Linked DNA regions of Homo sapiens: region 1 is linked to region 2. Evidence: fine-mapped QTL for protein levels in blood plasma. A gene starts in region 2. The other region holds a variant in brackets. All regions are shown on one strand. Distances are between the middles of the regions. Region 1 has its middle 16 kb from the start of RPS26. Region 2 holds the start of ERBB3 (erb-b2 receptor tyrosine kinase 3).

Region 1 (4,322 bases), 22 kb before region 2:
TGGGAGGCCAAGGCAGTAGATCATGAGGTCAGGAGTTTGAGACCAGCCTGGCCAACATAGTGAAACCCCATCTCTACTAAAAATACAAAATTAGTCAGGTGTGGTGGCACATGCCTGTAGTCCCAGCTACTCAGGAGGCTGAGGCAGGAAAATCGCTTGAACCTGGGAGGCGGAGGTTGTGGTGAGCCGAGATCACACCACCGCCCTCCAGCCTGGGCAACAGAGCTAGACTCCATCTCAAAAAAAAAACAAAACAACAACAAAAAAAAAAACAAAAAAAAAAAAACGGCCAGGTGCAGTGGCTTATGCCTGTAATCCAAACACTTTGGGAGGCCAAGACTAGTGCGGTGGATTATGAGGTCAAGAGATCGAGACCATCCTGGACAACATGGTGAAACCCCGTCTCTACTAAAAATACAAAAATTAGCCAGGTGTGGTGGCACTTGTCTGTAATCCCAGCTACTTAGGATGCTGAGACAAGAGAATTGCTTGAACCCAGGAGGCGGAGATTGCAGTGAGCCAAGATCAAGCCACTGTACTCCAGCCTGGGCGACAGAGCAAGACTCTGTCTCAAAAAAAAAAAAAAAATACAATCTCATCACTCCCCCACTGAAATTCTTAAGCTTCTCTCTGTAATTAAAATGTACACTCCTTACTGTGGTATATATGCCCCTGCATGGTCTGGCCCCTCCCTTCCTCTCTAACCACCTCCTCTGCCATGGCCTCCCCATGATTCTTTCTGTTCCACCACACTGGCCTCCTTTCTGTTCCTCAGACCCTCCAAGCTCATTCTTCCTTCAGACCTTATCCCCTCACTAGTTGCTCTGCCAGCAATGCTCTTCTTTCAGGTCAACACAAAACTGGCTCCTTCTTATTTAAAGCTTAGTGCAAATGACACTGCCTCAGAGACCCCCCTTCTTGACCACTCTGTCTAAATTAACTCCTCCAGGTGAGCAGCAGTGGTCACTTTCCCAGTATCTTGTTTCGTTTTCTTCATGCCACTTACTACTGAAGTTATTTCCTGAGTTGTTCATTGGCTGTCTGCACTCTCTAGAATGTAAGCCCCTTGAAGGCAGAAACCTGTCTCTTGTTCTCCTGTGTCCTCAGTGTTTGGAGCAACACATAACACTGAATGAATGAATGCATGCATGCATGCATGTATGGGGGCGCATGAGAAGGATGCAGGTGGCAGGCAGTTGTATTTGTTTCCTCTCGGTGCTGTAACAAATTACCACAAACTCAGTTTTATTATTATTATTATTTATTTTAGTTTTATTTTTTTGAGACAGAGTTTTGCTCTTTTTGCCCAGGCTGGAGTGCAATGGCGTGATCTCAGCTCACTGCAACCTCCGCCTCCCGGGTTCAAGTGATTCTCCTGCCTCAGCCTCCCAAGTAGCTGGGATTACAGGTGCACACCACCACACCCGGCTAATTTTTTGTATTTTTTAAGTACAGACGGGTTTCACCATGTTGTCCAGGATGGCCTCGATCTCTTGACCTCGTGATCCACCCGCCTCGGCCTCCCAAAGTGCTGGGATTACAGGCGTAAGCCACCGTGCCCGGCCAGTTTTATTATCTTATAGTTCTAGAGGTCAGAATCTGAAACGGGCCTTACAGGACTACAAGGTGTTGGTGAAGATGGGTTCCTTCTGGACGCCCTAGGGGAGAATCTATTTCCTTCCCTTTTCAGCTTCTAGAGGCTGCCCGAATTCCTTGGCTGAGGTTGCAGTGAGCCAAGATCGCGCCATTGCACTCCAGCCTGGGCAACAAGTGCAAAATTCTGTCTCAAAAAAAAAAAAAAAATTGGTCTGGGTGCACCAATTTTACTAGTCCCTGGATGTTTCAAAGATAAATCAGATGCAGGCCAGGTGGCTCATGCCTGTAATCCCAACACTTTGGGAGGC[C/G]GAGGCAGAGGATTACTTGAGGACAGGAGTTTGAGATCAGCCTGGGCAACATAGCAAGACCCTCTTTCTTTCTCTCTTTCTTTTTTTTTTTTTTTTTTTTTTTTTGAGACGGAGTCTGGCTCTGTCACCCAGGCTGGAGTGTAGTGGCGCCACCTCGGCTCACTGCAAGCTCCGCCTCCCAGGTTCATGCCATTCTCCTGCTTCAGCCTCCCAAGTAGCTGGGACTACAGGTGCCCTCTGCCACGCCTGGCTAATTTTTTGTATTTTTAGTAGAGACGGGGTTTCGCCATGTTAGCCAGGATGGTCTCGATCTCCTGGCCTCGTGATCCACCCACCTCGGCCTCCCAAAGTGCTGGGATTACAGGCGTGAGCCACAGCACCTGGCCTCTTGCTTTCTTGCTTTCCACTCTCTTTCTTTCTTCCTTCCCTCTCTCTCTTTTCTTTTCCTTTTCTTTAATTTTCCTTTTGTTTTCTTTCTTTTTTGAGACAGAGTCTCACTCTCTTGCCCAGGCTGGAGTGCAGTGGCACACTCTCAGTTCACTGCAACCTCCGTCTTCCAGGTTCAAGCGATTCTCTTGCCTCAGCATCCTGAGTAGCTTACAGGCACCTGCCACCACGCCCAACTAATTTTTATATTTTTAGTAGAGACAGGGTTCACCATCTTGGCCAGGCTGGTCTTGAACTCCTGACCTTAGATGATCCGCCTGCCTTGGCCTCAACTTAGACCTTAGCATCACCAAAAACTGTACCATCTTAGAAATTTCAACCCCAAATCTCCAATAATCTCCTTTTAGCTCACTTACTCAACCATGCCACCTCAACAATTTGTGTCCTTCACGTTCACTGCAATCCATTGATCTTACCATTTCCCCAGCATCCAGCAGTCTCCACATATTTCTTCAAGAATCTTGGTTTCTTTAATGAGAAATGATAATTAGAGTTGGGCATAGTGGCTCACACCTGTAATCCCTGTGACTTGGAAGACTGAGGCAAGATGATCACTTGAGTCCAGGAGTTTGAGACCAGACTGGGGAAAAATAGTGCCCAATGGTCTCCACAAAAATAAAAAACTTGGCTGGGGGGCTGGGTGTGGTGGCTCACACCTGTAATCCCAGCAATTTGGGAGGCTGAGGAGGGTGGATCACCTGAGGTCAGGAGTTCGAGATCAACCTAGCCAACATGGTGAAACCCCATCTCTACTAAAAATACAAAAATTATCTGGGCATGGTGACGGGTGCCTGTAATCCCAGCTACTCGGGAGGCCGAGGCAGGAGAATCACTTGAACCTGGGAGGCAGAGGTTACGGTGAGCTGAGATGATGCTGTTGCTCTCCAGCCTGGGGGACAATAGTGAAACTCTATCTCAAAAAAATAAAAAGTGAAAAAAAACTTGGTAGGGTGCTGTGGCATGTACCCATAGTTCCAGCTACTTGGGAGGATGAGGCAGGAGGATTGCTGCAGTAAGCTATGATTGGGTCACTGCACTCCTGCCTGAACAACAGAGTGAGACTCAACTGTAAAAGAAAAAAAAAGGTCATTAGAGACTACCATCTCTGCACCAGGATGCTCATTACTATTGAAGATGCTCATTACTATTGGGTTTGTCAAATTTGGGACTACAAAACTACAAAAAGTCTGTGTTTTCTTTCTTCCATCAAGAGTCATGGTTCTTACGGACACAGAAATGGGAGAATTAGAACATTCCATAATTCCTTATTTGTTTTATCCTACACAATACATTAAACAGTCTCAGAATAACTAGTAGTACTACCTTCGTCATTATGATTACTAAAAACATATTTAAACTTTTTTTGTAAATGCTATTTCCTTTCTCCTTATTTTTTATGGTTATAATGTCTACATTATCAGATCATATGGCCATTACATACTATACTCTCTCTTTTACCTTCATTAGTCTCATTTCCATGAGTAACTAATATACAGTACTGACTCTCAGCCCTTCTGTTGACATCTCTCTAGTTGTCTGAAGTGCACTCTCTAGTGGATTTCTCAGGAAGGGGTCGTGGGAAAAATAATCCCTGAGTCCCTACATATTGATAACAATTTGTCTGTGCCCATTATCGTTGAAGATTAGCTTTGCTTTGGCTCACCTGTTCTTCCTTTTTATTTATTTATTTATTATTATTATGTTTTGAGATGGAGTCCCGCTCTGTCGCCCAGGCTGGAGTGCAGTGGTGCAATCTTGGCTCACTGCAAGCTCCGCTTCCCGGGTTCAAGCGATTCTCCTGCCTCAGCCACCCAAGTAGCTGGGATTACAGGCACACGCCACCATGCCTGGCTATTTCATATATATATATATTTTTAGTAGAGATGGGATTTCACCATGTTGGCCAAGCTGGTCTCCAACTCCTGACCTCAGGCGATCCGCCCACCTCAGCCTCCCAAAATGCTGGGATTA
Region 2 (4,384 bases):
AAACAAATAAACAAAGTAGCCAGACATTTTGGTGCCCACCTGTAGACTCAGTTACTAGGGAGGCTGAAGTGGGAGAATCACCTGAGCCTGGGAAGTTGAGGCTGCTGTGAGCCATGATTGCACCACTGCACTCCAGCCTGGGTGACAGAGGGAGATCCTGTCTCAAAAAAAGGAAAAAAAGCCAGGTGTGGTGGCTCACACCTGTAATCCCAGCACTTTGGGAGGCTGAGGTGGGTGGATCACCTGAGGTCAGGAATTAGAGACTAGTCTGGCCATCACAGTGAAACCCCATCTCTACTAAAAATACAAAAAATTAGCCGGGCTTGGTGGCGCACGCCTTGTAGCCCCAGCTACTTGGAAGCCTGAGGCAGGAGAATCACTTGAACTCAGTAGTGAGCTGAGATCAGGCCACTGCACTCCAGCCTGGGTGACAGAAACAGAACAAGATTCCGTGTCAAAAAAAAAAAAGCAACAGACCAGAAGGCCATGAGGTCAAACAAAACAATGTTTTGTTTTTGTTTTGAGATGGCGTCTCACTCTGTCGCCCAAGCTGGAGTGCAGTGATGCAATCTCAGCTCACTGCAACCTCCACCTCCCGGGTTCAAGCGATTCTCCTGCCTCAGTCTCCTAAGTAGCTGGGATTACAGGTGCCCACCATCATGCCCAGCTAATTTTTGTATTTTTAGTAGAGACGGTGTTTCACTATGTTGACTAGGCTGGTCTCGAACTCCTGACCTCAAGTGATCTGCCCGCCTCGGCCTCCCAAAGTGCTGGGATTACAGGCATGAGCCACCGCGCCCAGCCGAATGTTTTGTTTTTTAAGATGGAAGATATCCCAGCACTTTGGCAGGCTGAAGCAGGTGGATCATTCCAGCTTGGGCAACAAGAGCGAAACTCTGTCTCAAAAAAAAAAAAAAAGAAAAGAAAAAAAAAGAGAGAAAGAAACCCTAGGTAAAAGTCTGAGCCCCACCTCCCAATCACCTGATCACCTCAACCACTGTCACCAGGTGGATGACCTTGGAGAGGTCACACACTTCTAGTTCTGTAAAATGGGGAGTTATATTGCCTAAATCATATAATTTTTATGTTAAGTGACACATTCTCTAAGGCACTAAGTTTGAGGACATACTTTGTAAATGAAATGATATATGGAAATGTTTGTATATGTTAATGGTTTTGTTGTTGCTATTATTATTATGACTACTATACACATGGTCTGGAGAAAGCCAACCTCCCCAAAGCGGAGATTCTCCAGTAGAGAACAGGCCCTCTAGGTTGCATATCAATAGGGAGCATGTTTAAGGAATGTTAGCCGGTAGTCTTTGCTAGGTGTGAGGGGTGAAATTTTTCTTTATCAAGGCTCAACTGTTTTCGAAGTCTTCAGGCTTGAAGTTCTGGAGAAAACAACTAGGCTCTCCGGGCGAGATCCCGAATACCAGTTTAAGGGATTTGAAATGCAAGGCCGTCTGGGACTCCACTGCCACGGATGGGCACCAGGCGGCGCCGGTCGGATCCGTCCCGGGACTAGCAGGGCTTTGGGCAGCAACCCGCAGGGAGCCCGACCGCCTCTGGCCAGGTCCGGGCAGCTGGTGGGGGAGGTTCCAGAGGTCCACGCCATTCGTGGACGCAGTCTCTAGTGTCCTCTCCGCGTCCCACTTCACTGCCCCATCCCCTTTCCTGCGAGAGCCTGGACTTGGAAGGCACCTGGGAGGGTGTAAGCGCCTTGGTGTGTGCCCATCTGGGTCCCCAGAAGAGCGGCGGGAACTGCGGCCGCCCGGACGGTGCGGCCAGACTCCAGTGTGGAAGGGGAGGCAGCTGTTCTCCCAGGCGGCCGTGGGGGGCAGCAGAGGGGACGGCGACAGGTGCGGGAGCCCCTCCCGGGGTAGAAGTGGAAAGGCGGGCTCCGGGGTCTGTTCCCAGGCTGGAAACCACCCCCGCCCCCCATCCAAATCCCCGGGAGAGGCCCGGCCGGCGCCGGGTCTGGAGGAGGAAGCGGCCAGAGACAGTGCAATTTCACGCGGTCTCTGTGGCTCGGGTTCCTGGGCTGGGTGGATGAATTATGGGGTTTCGAGTCTGGGAGAAACTGAGGTGGCCTGGACGTGAGGCAAAAAACACCCTCCCCCTCAAAAACACACAGAGAGAAATATTCACATTCTGAGAGAAAATCCACCAAGTGAACCAACCGGCTAGGGGAGTTGAGTGATTTGGTTAATGGGCGAGGCCAACTTTCAGGGGGCAGGGCTTTGGAGAGCTTTCCACTCCCTCATTCATTACCCTTCCCTGGATCTGGGGGCTTTCGGAATCTCGACCTCCCCTTGGCCTATCTCCTGCAGAAAAATTAGGGTGAGCCCCATCCTCGATCTGCTCCGCCAAGTTGCGGGACCGCGGGGCGTGGCACGCTCGGGGCAGGCGGTCCGAGGCTCCGCAATCCCTACTCCAGCCTCGCGCGGGAGGGGGCGCGGCCGTGACTCACCCCCTTCCCTCTGCGTTCCTCCCTCCCTCTCTCTCTCTCTCTCACACACACACACCCCTCCCCTGCCATCCCTCCCCGGACTCCGGCTCCGGCTCCGATTGCAATTTGCAACCTCCGCTGCCGTCGCCGCAGCAGCCACCAATTCGCCAGCGGTTCAGGTGGCTCTTGCCTCGATGTCCTAGCCTAGGGGCCCCCGGGCCGGACTTGGCTGGGCTCCCTTCACCCTCTGCGGAGTCATGAGGGCGAACGACGCTCTGCAGGTGCTGGGCTTGCTTTTCAGCCTGGCCCGGGGCTCCGAGGTGGGCAACTCTCAGGCAGGTAAGTGGCGCGAGAGCACCGGCGGGCTCGGCACCTGGGAGCCGGAACCCAGTGCGCGCAGCCTCGGAGGGTATGGGCACGGTCTCAGGCGGCGCGGGGTTGTGGGTGCTGCCCCCGGTTTGCCAGGACCACCTGGGAGAGGGGCGGTCAGGCTCGGGTTATCGGCGTGGTCCGGCCGAGGGCGGCATTCCGGGACCCTCACGCCACCCTTCTCCAGAGCGTCGCCGACCCTCTAATTGGTCTCCCCAGAAGAGGCTGAGGCCGAAACAGTAGTTCACACTTCTGAGGGGCCCTGCAGGGAGGGGAGCAGGGAACTTCATTCTGTAAACAGGAGGTGCTTGGAGGTGGGGGCCTTGGCGGGAAGGGTCTCGGTTTGCTCGCCAACCCCCTGCCCCCCACCCGCGCCGATTTCAGCTACCCCTAGTTTCGTTGTTTTGCCGACAGGGCGGAGCTACAGAAGGTTGGAGGGGGTTGTTGTTCTCTGGTGTTGGAAAAACAGGAGCGGCACCTCCTCTTCCGTGAGTGAGCCTGCCCTGGGGAGGTCTGAGATTAACCAGAGGGCCAAGTTCAGGTGACATCAGGCAGGAGGCCCAACAGAGGCTGGCGCCCCCTTTCCTCAGTATAGCAGAGCTTAAGCAACATCTCTTTGTCAAGACCCAGGTCAACACAACTCATATTTATTGAGCATCTACTATACACAAGGCCCTGGGCCAGGAGCTGTAAGGGCAAGGATGTCCAGCCTCTGGTCTTTTCTCTCCCCAACCTGAGGATCAAGAGGGCACCTCTGCTACTTTCTAAGCCTCCTGCCTTGGGGAGTCCTTCCTGGGCTCAGCTTGTGCCTCCCGCCCCCATTTTGCTTATTGTCTGACACTGTCTCTAGGACCCTAGACAGAGCCCCGGATTGCTCTTCTCCAGTCCTCCCCCGACTCCCATGCTATCTGAGCCCACCCCTTTGGGGTGTCTCTGGGACCGTGGACACCTGAGGACTGAAGTTCTGTGGATCTCCTCCCCTCCCCTCAGATCTCAGCTTGGGGTTTGGCACAGCCAGGGCCCCTTCCCCAGTGTGGGAGTGGAAGAAACCACCTGTGCTTCCCTCACAGTTGCTGGGCCTAAATTTAGATCCTGGGATTTTTAGATGTGAACACTCCCAGCTGGTGGAGGGGGGTGGTCTGGGGACTGGCGTGGGAGGGAGCAGTGGAGTGACTGTATAACTGTCCCATCCAGACTCCTGCAATCTTCACCCAGAAACCCAGGAGTACCAGAGTCTGGCCACCCTCCCTGGGGAGGCAGGAGGCAGGCATGGTTGGGTCTCTTTACCCTTTATCTGGGTCCTGCAGCCTCTGGGCATCCGGCCCTGTCTCAGTCCTTCTATAGCCCCTTTGTCCTGGCTGTGATGGGGGTGGGGGATGTTGGAGGGGAGGCCTCTGGTTGAGGAGGGGCTGGAGATTCTGGCTCTATCCCACCCCTAGTGCTCTCTACCAAAGGAGGGCCTGTGACACTGCCCCTCCCTATGCTCCCGGTTCCTGGGTACAGCAGGGATTTTTATGATTCCCTTCCCCTGCCCTGCTCCCCAAGCTGCCTAGCTCCTCCCCA

Evidence for each region. PIP is the chance, under the fine-mapping model, that this variant and not a neighbour inherited with it causes the effect. Protein levels are from the aptamer-based SomaScan assay of Sun 2018.
Region 1: its variant is fine-mapped to the plasma level of the ERBB3 protein (Sun 2018, PIP 0.95).

The regions. Positions count from the first base shown.
Region 1 is chr12:56,055,816-56,060,137 of GRCh38, forward strand. No RefSeq gene overlaps it. Among named protein-coding and RNA genes, the nearest start is that of RPS26, 16 kb to the left of the region's middle. The variant C/G (reference allele first, on the strand shown) is at 1,905.
Region 2 is chr12:56,077,592-56,081,975 of GRCh38, forward strand. It overlaps ERBB3 (erb-b2 receptor tyrosine kinase 3), which reads left to right and starts at 2,574. Exons shown (of 28, transcript NM_001982.4): 1 at 2,574-2,791. The coding sequence starts at 2,710. RefSeq lists enhancers at 357-406, 2,231-3,221.